Homo sapiens: one gene and its partner. The protein of the gene in region 1 interacts with the protein of each later gene in a pairwise test. Each region holds a gene or a part of one and is shown in the gene's direction. Other genes may lie near its edges. The genes, in order: PLD2 and UNG.

Region 1 (3,817 bases):
TTAATGATATTAAAGGGTATATGCATTTAATATTTTGATACTGCTGACCAGTCGCTTTGGCTCATGCCTGTAATCCCAGCACTTTGGGAGGCCGAGGCGGGTAGATCATTGGGGTCAGGAGTTCAAGACCAACCTGGCCAACATGGCAAAAACCCGTCTCTACTAAAAATACAAAAATTAGCCAGGCGTGGTGGCGGGCGCCTGTAATTTCAGTTACTTGGGAGGCTGAGACAGGAAAATTGCTTGAACCCAAGAGGCGGAGGTTGCAGTGAGCCAAGATCATGCCATTGCACTCCAGCCTGGGTGACAGAGCGGGACACCATCTCCAAAAAGCTATATATATATTTTTTGATACTGCCAAATTGTCTCCTAAAAGTTATATTCCCATAGTCTATGAGAATACCCACTTCCCCAGCATATTGAATATTGATATTGAATGTTACCAGTGATTTGAATTATTACCAATCTAATGGATTTTTTAAATGTAATTTCATTTTAATTTCGTTGTTTACTAGTGAAACTGAACATTTGCCACGATTGGCCATTTTAATTTCTCTGTGAACTGTCAGTTCTTACTCTTTGCTCATTTTTCAGTTGGCTCATGTGACTTTTTCTTGTCGATTTATTGGTGTTCTTTATGTATGATGTATTAATCCTCCTGTTCTTTAGTTGATTAGGTTATTGTGTCTTTTTGTAATTTTTATTTGTATTTAGCGCATATGGGCAAACACTATTTTGATGTGTCTGATACCACTTGTGTTCTCTGATCATTTCTGATCTTTGACCTTGCTGTCACCTCTGACCCACGACTGTCCTCCGGTCTTCACTCTCCAGAGCTTTCTGGCTTCTGACTCCCCTGACCTCCTTGGCTTGGCCTCCCCCCAGGTTTGTGAATGGGGCAGGTTACTTTGCTGCTGTGGCAGATGCCATCCTTCGAGCTCAAGAGGAGATTTTCATCACAGACTGGTGGTGAGTGGGAAAAGGCCCCAACAACATGGGGCAGGATAGAGCCTGGGGCAGATCAGCATTAGGAGGAGAAGGGGGGTGCAGCTGGTGGTCTGGGGCTTCGTTTGCCCCTAATCCACTGCCCTGAATCCCAGGTTGAGTCCTGAGGTTTACCTGAAGCGTCCGGCCCATTCAGATGACTGGAGACTGGACATTATGCTCAAGAGGAAGGCGGTGAGGAGAGTGGTCAGGCCGCAGGGGGAGGGGGTTGCCTGTGGGTGGAGGTTGATTAGCAGGGCTGCAGTGTGGGAGAATTAGGCAGTCTGAGGCTTCAGGGGAGGGAAAAGTGTCCATCCTGGCCCAGCACCTGTCAGACATCACCTCCGCCCTCTCCCTCTGCCCTAAGGAGAACTGACAACTTCCTCTTCATGCTCCCTCCACCTGGCAGAGACTTCCCTCCCAGTATACATAATACTTTATTGTGTTATCTGGGGGTATACATGTCTATCTCTCTCACTGGACTAGTTAATATCACTGTTCCACTACAAGGCACAGTACCTGCCATGGAGGGGGCATGTGTGGTGTTGATGGACAGGAAGAAGGATGCATGGATGATGCAGGGTGGCTGGGCAGGTGGATGGATAGAGGACAGAAAGGGTGATGGATGGAAGGATATGAGTTGGAAAGGTGGAGGGCTAGGAGGGTAGGCAGGTAGATGGATGAATGATAGACGGTACATAAAGGGATGAGTAAATGCTTGGGAAGATGGATGGATGGATGATGAAGGGTGGGTGGATAGATGTGTGGATGGGTGAGTGGGTGAGCACACAGATGACATTTAGTCTAAGTCTGTGGCAAGCAGCAAAGCAGGGCATATGTGGCAGAGCCTCTAGGATCTCCAGACAAGCTGGAGGGACACACGTGGAAAAGGTTTGGGAGTGTGGAAAGGGGCTACTCTGGGAGAGGCACTAGGATCTGATTCCCCAACTCACCACCAGGAGGAGGGTGTCCGTGTGTCTATTCTGCTGTTTAAAGAAGTGGAATTGGCCTTGGGCATCAACAGTGGCTATAGCAAGAGGGCGCTGATGCTGCTGCACCCCAACATAAAGGTGACTCTCGGCCTCAGAGACCCTCCCACATGACAGCCCTTCTCCCCACACTGTCCCAGCCCCCAGCGCTCCCGCTCCCTGATGGTCTCATCTTTCCATCTTTCCTCTCTCCCTCCCAGTACCTCCTGTTTTCCTTCACCTAAACCCACCCTCATGAACCCTCCATGCCTGCTCCAGGTGATGCGTCACCCAGACCAAGTGACGTTGTGGGCCCATCATGAGAAGCTCCTGGTGGTGGACCAAGTGGTAGCATTCCTGGGGGGACTGGACCTTGCCTATGGCCGCTGGGATGACCTGCACTACCGACTGACTGACCTTGGAGACTCCTCTGAATCAGCTGCCTCCCAGGTAATCCCCCTGAGGCCTTCCTGAGCACCCCCAAACTCAGATAAGCTCAATCAACACCATTTCCCAGCTCCAGCCTTACCCCCTCAGTCATTCCAGGCCCTGCCAACCTCAGGGTTCCTCAGACTTTCTGGGACTCCAAGAACCCACTTTGAAAGTGCTGTAACTGGCCGGGAGCCATGGCTTATGCCTGTAATCCCAGCACTTTGGGAGGCCAAGGCGGGTGGATCACCTGAGGTCTGGAGTTCGAGACCAGCCTGACCGACATGGTGAAACCCTGTCTCTACTAAAAATGCAAAAAATTAGCTGGGCATGGTGGCAGTTGCCTGTCATTGAAGCTACTCGGGAGGCTGAGGCAGGAGAATCACTTGAACCCAGGAGGCGGAGGTTGCAGTGAGCCGAGATTGTGCCATTGTACTCCACCCTGGGCAACAGAGCGAGACTCTGTCTCAAAAAAAAAAAAAAAAGTGCTGTCACCCACCCAGTCCTTTCCCCATTTTCACTGACCATCACCCCATTCCTCTAAAAGTGTCAAAGGCAACTGGAGGGGAGGGCTGGGGAATCAGACCCTCTGTTTCATTCTTCCTCTCGGTCTCTCTCACTCTTTCAGTGCTCCTCTCTTTGGCCCTGGCTCTGTACAGCCCCATGACTTCCCCTTGCCCCTGGCTTGGGTGTGTTCCCCCTACAGCCTCCCACCCCGCGCCCAGACTCACCAGCCACCCCAGACCTCTCTCACAACCAATTCTTCTGGCTGGGCAAGGACTACAGCAATCTTATCACCAAGGACTGGGTGCAGCTGGACCGGCCTTTCGAAGGTGAAGCCTCCCACCCGCCAAAGCCCCAGAGAGCTGAGAGCAGGGTCAGAAGCTGGGGCTGGTACTGAGAGTGGGATGAGAGGGGTCAACGGTGGTACAGCCCTCCCTCTGGCAGGCTCTTTCTCCCTGCCCCAAGTGTCCCAAGGAGTCCAGCCCTGACATCTCCCCTGACTCTCCTGGGACCCCCCAGATTTCATTGACAGGGAGACGACCCCTCGGATGCCATGGCGGGACGTTGGGGTGGTCGTCCATGGCCTACCGGCCCGGGACCTTGCCCGGCACTTCATCCAGCGCTGGAACTTCACCAAGGTGTTCATTCCCTCCGATAGGGGCTGGAGGTAGGGAGGGAGCCAGGGCAGATTGGCACCTCCTGCTGACTCTGCCATCCCTCCACGTCAGACCACCAAGGCCAAGTACAAGACTCCCACATACCCCTACCTGCTTCCCAAGTCTACCAGCACGGCCAATCAGCTCCCCTTCACACTTCCAGGAGGGCAGTGCACCACCGTACAGGTGAGGCCCCCCACTTCAGCCAGCCCTCCCCTTTGTCTCCTTCAGCCTAACACCCCAACCCACTCTCCCTGGTGTGAGAGCTGCCCACAC
Region 2 (3,817 bases), on another chromosome or scaffold:
TTGATGGAGTCTCGCTCTGTTGCCCAGGCTGTAGTGCAGTGGTATGATTTTGGCTCACTGCAACCTCCGCCTGCTGGGTTTAAGTGATTCTGCCTCAGCCTCCCGAGTAGCTGGGACTACAGGCGCCCGCCACCACACCCGGCTGATTTTTTTTTATTTTTTAGTAGAGACAGGGTTTCACCATGTTGGCCAGGCTGGTTTTGAACTCCTGACCTCAAGCGATCTGTCCTCCTCAACCTCCAAAGTGCTAGGATTACAGGCATGAGCCACCACACCCGGCCTATCGGTGATCATTATTAACCCCAAGGTCTAATTGCAGATACCCAACACGACCAAACCAGTGGCTCCCCTCCCTACATCTTCCCCCTATCTGCTACCTCCCTCTTTCCCTTCACTCACTGAAGCACTTCTACACCTGGTTGTGGAAATCAGAGACCTAAAAGTCATCCTTGAATCCTCCATCCCATCAGTAAATCCCATCAACTCTGCCTCCCAAAACACCCCAGTCTACTGCTTCTCATTCGCCACTGCTGCCCTTCAGGCATGAGTCACCATCATCTTTCTCCAGGAGAACCGTGATGGACTAGAGATGGAGGCTTGATGGAGAGCCGCAGAGTGGAGGAGGGAGAGATAGGGGGTGGGAAGGAGACGAGCCAGGGGTGTGTTCATCCCTGGCAAATGGGAGAGACATTGGGTGGGGGAGAAATTATAGAGTAAATGCTTCAATGATCGAAGGCAAGGGCTTAGCAGAGGTAACCTGACAATAGTTTTTGGTGTATCAGCAGGAGGTAACGGGGGTATCAGAAATGTGCACGTATATTTAACCCCTACCTTGTGTGGGTACTAGGTTGAGCACTTTTGTTTTTTGAGATGGAGTCTTTCTGTCACCCAGGCTGGAGTGCAGTGGCATGATCTCGGCTCACTGCAACTTCGCCTCCTGGGTTCAAGCACTTCTCCTGCCTCAGCCTCCTGAGTAGCTAGGATTACAGTTGCCTGCCACCACACCCAGCTAATATTTTTTATTTTTAGTAGAGACTGGGTTTCACCATGTTGACAAGGCTGGTCTTGAACTCCTGACCTCAAGCGATCCTCCCATCTTGGTCTCCCAAAGTGCTAGGATTACAGATGTAAGCCACCGCACCCGACCAGGTTGAGTACTTTGCATGCAGAATCTTACTTAACTCTCAGAAAGGCTTTGAGGTAGGCATACACTTGTATGAGTGACCTAAGATCTGACTGGTATGAACTGCTAAGATGTGATCATCTAGGTATGTAAGAAGTGTGCGTGAGAGTAATTGCTAATCTCTATCCCTTAGGGAGGTTTACGGCCAGTGTTGCTCTTCCGCAGTATATTGGTAATCTTTAATCATGGTTTGGTCTGAAAGTAAACAGTTGTTAAAGTAGCTTGGTCATTAAAGCCAAATTGCATATCTCCAGCCCAGTGTCTCTTCTGATCTATAGAGTGCCTTGTTACTACTGCCCCATGAACATGCCAAATTCAACATTTTCCAAACGAAGTTTCTCCTTTTCTCATCCATGCTTCACTAAACTTCCTCCTCTGCACTCCCTAGCAGCAAAAAGCACCATCATCTGCCCAGTTGTCCAGCCAGATCTATTACTGACACCTGCCTACCTCTCTTTCTCCCCTCTTCTGTCCTTTTTTTCCACCTTCCCAGTCAGTCAGTCATTCATATCTGTGTTCTTTCTTCCCCCTCCAAATCTACCCCTGCCTGACCACCTTTGCCTTCATTCAGGCCCTCACCTGATCTTGCCTGGAGGGTTCTGATGCTTTCTCCCTGGAAGGCCTTGCCTTAGGCTGAAGATCTGATTTCAGGGGGGTAGAGGGGTGGCCCCCAATCGGCCTCCCAGACTTAACTCTATCCCTCTTTGCACTCCGATCCCTAGGCTGACCCATTCCCCTTTACTTTTTCACGGTGCCCCACTTCCCTGCCTTTGCATATCCTGCTTTCTCTGCCTACAGTGTAGAGGTCATTTTCTTCTGGGATTCTTTAGAGCTCTGCAGGGCTGACATTTACAGGGGCCTGTGCTGCTTGCGTGTGTGTTCAGCATTTGGTGTGCATGACTTCTTATCACACTCAGCCCCTGTGATCCTCATTTGATTGGTCACAGTAACTTCATAAGCTGGGCGGTATTGTTATTCCCAGTCTACAGATGAAAACTGAAGCAGCTTAGAGTTGCAGCAACTTCTCTGTGGTACAGCTACTGAGGGTAGAGGTAGGCCTCGACCCCGGGCAGTCTGGCTCCAGGCTCTGTACTCTTAACCACACTGGATTGCCTGGCTTTAGTCCTCACCCCTCATCGCCCCTCCTGGACTGAGCCCCTTGAAGGCAAGAGTGTTTTGAGAAACAGTGATTTGTTCGTTAGTTTTTATATACAGAAAAGAAGAGGAAAACAAAAATGGTCTATATCTCCCTGTTAAAATAACTATAGTTGATATTTTAAAAAAATCAAAGTAGTCATTTGCCACATAATGATGTTTCAGTCATAAACTGTATATATGACGATGGTCCCATAAGATTATAATATTCTGGCCGGGTGTGGTGGCTCATACCTGTTATCCCAGCACTTTGGGTGGCCGAGGCGAGTGGATTGTCTGAGCTCAGGAGTTTGAGACCAGCCTGGGCAACATAGTGAAACCCTGTCTCTACTAAAATACAAAAAATTAGCCAGGTGTGGCGGCGTGTGCCTGTAGTCCCAGCTACTTGGGAGGCAGAGGTTGCAGTTAGCTGAGATCATGCCACTGCACTCCAGCCTGGCAACAGAGTGAGACTCTATCTCAAAAAAAAAACATATATATATATACACATATATATATACGTATATATATATGTGTATATATATATATATAAAAAATATTTTTACTGCATCTTTTCTATGTTTAGATACACAAATGCCTACCATTGTGTCACAGTTGCCTATAGTATTTAGTACAGTAACATGCTACACAGGTTTGTAGACCAGGAGCAATAAGCTACACTATATAGCCTAGGTGTGTAGTGGTAGGTTATCCCATTTGGGTTTGTGTAAAGATGCCCTGTGGTGTACGGATAGCAGTGAAATTGCCTAACAACACACTTCTCAGAATGCATCCCTGTCATTAGGTGATGTATGACTATTGCTTTTTTTCTTTTGAAACAGGGTCTAGCTCTGTCACCCAGGCTGGAATGCACTGGCTTGATCTCAACTCACTGCGGCCTCAACCTCCCAGGCTCAAGCAATCCTCCCACCTTAGTCACCTGAGTAGCAGGGACCACAGGCGTGCGCCACCACACCTGGCTAATTTTTGTATTTTTTTTTGTGGAGACAGGGTTTCACCACGTTGCCCAGGCTGGCTCTTGAACTCCTGGACTTAAACGATCCTCCTGCCTCGGCCTCCCAAAGTGCTGGGATTACAGGCGTGAGCTACCACACCTGGCCACTGACTATTCCTCTTTTTTTTTTTTTTTTTTTTTTTTCTGAGACAGTTTCACTCTTGTTGCCCAGGCTGGAGTGCAATGGCGTGATCTCAGTTCACTGCAGCCTCCCCCTCCTGGGTTCAAGTGATTCTCCTGCCTCAGCCTCCTGAGTAGCTGGGATTACAGGCATGTACCACCACATCCAGCTAATTTTGTATTTTTAGTAGAGACGGAGTTTCTTCATGTTGGTCAGGCTGGTCTTGAACTCCTGACCTCAGGTGATCCACCTACCTCAGCCTCCCAAAGTGCTGGGATTACAGGTGTGAGCCACCACGCCCGGCCAACTATTCCATTTTTGTGGCGAGATTTTTTTGTTTTTGTTTTTGTTTTTTAATTCTTCC

The links.
Region 2: the proteins of PLD2 (region 1) and UNG interact in binary tests that used the Homo sapiens proteins (3 or more experiments, as listed by UniProt).

Annotation. Positions count from the first base shown.
Region 1 is NC_000017.11:4,813,533-4,817,349, forward strand, and holds part of PLD2 (phospholipase D2), read left to right. Parts: intron 1-885; coding exon 886-969; intron 970-1,100; coding exon 1,101-1,179; intron 1,180-1,943; coding exon 1,944-2,054; intron 2,055-2,231; coding exon 2,232-2,402; intron 2,403-3,009; coding exon of another isoform or gene 3,010-3,048; exon of another isoform or gene 3,049-3,087; coding exon 3,088-3,214; intron 3,215-3,404; coding exon 3,405-3,523; intron 3,524-3,543; coding exon of another isoform or gene 3,544-3,613; coding exon 3,614-3,727; intron 3,728-3,817.
Region 2 is NC_000012.12:109,104,067-109,107,883, forward strand, and holds part of UNG (uracil-DNA glycosylase), read left to right. Parts: intron 1-3,817. UniProt on the Homo sapiens protein: Uracil-DNA glycosylase that hydrolyzes the N-glycosidic bond between uracil and deoxyribose in single- and double-stranded DNA (ssDNA and dsDNA) to release a free uracil residue and form an abasic (apurinic/apyrimidinic; AP) site.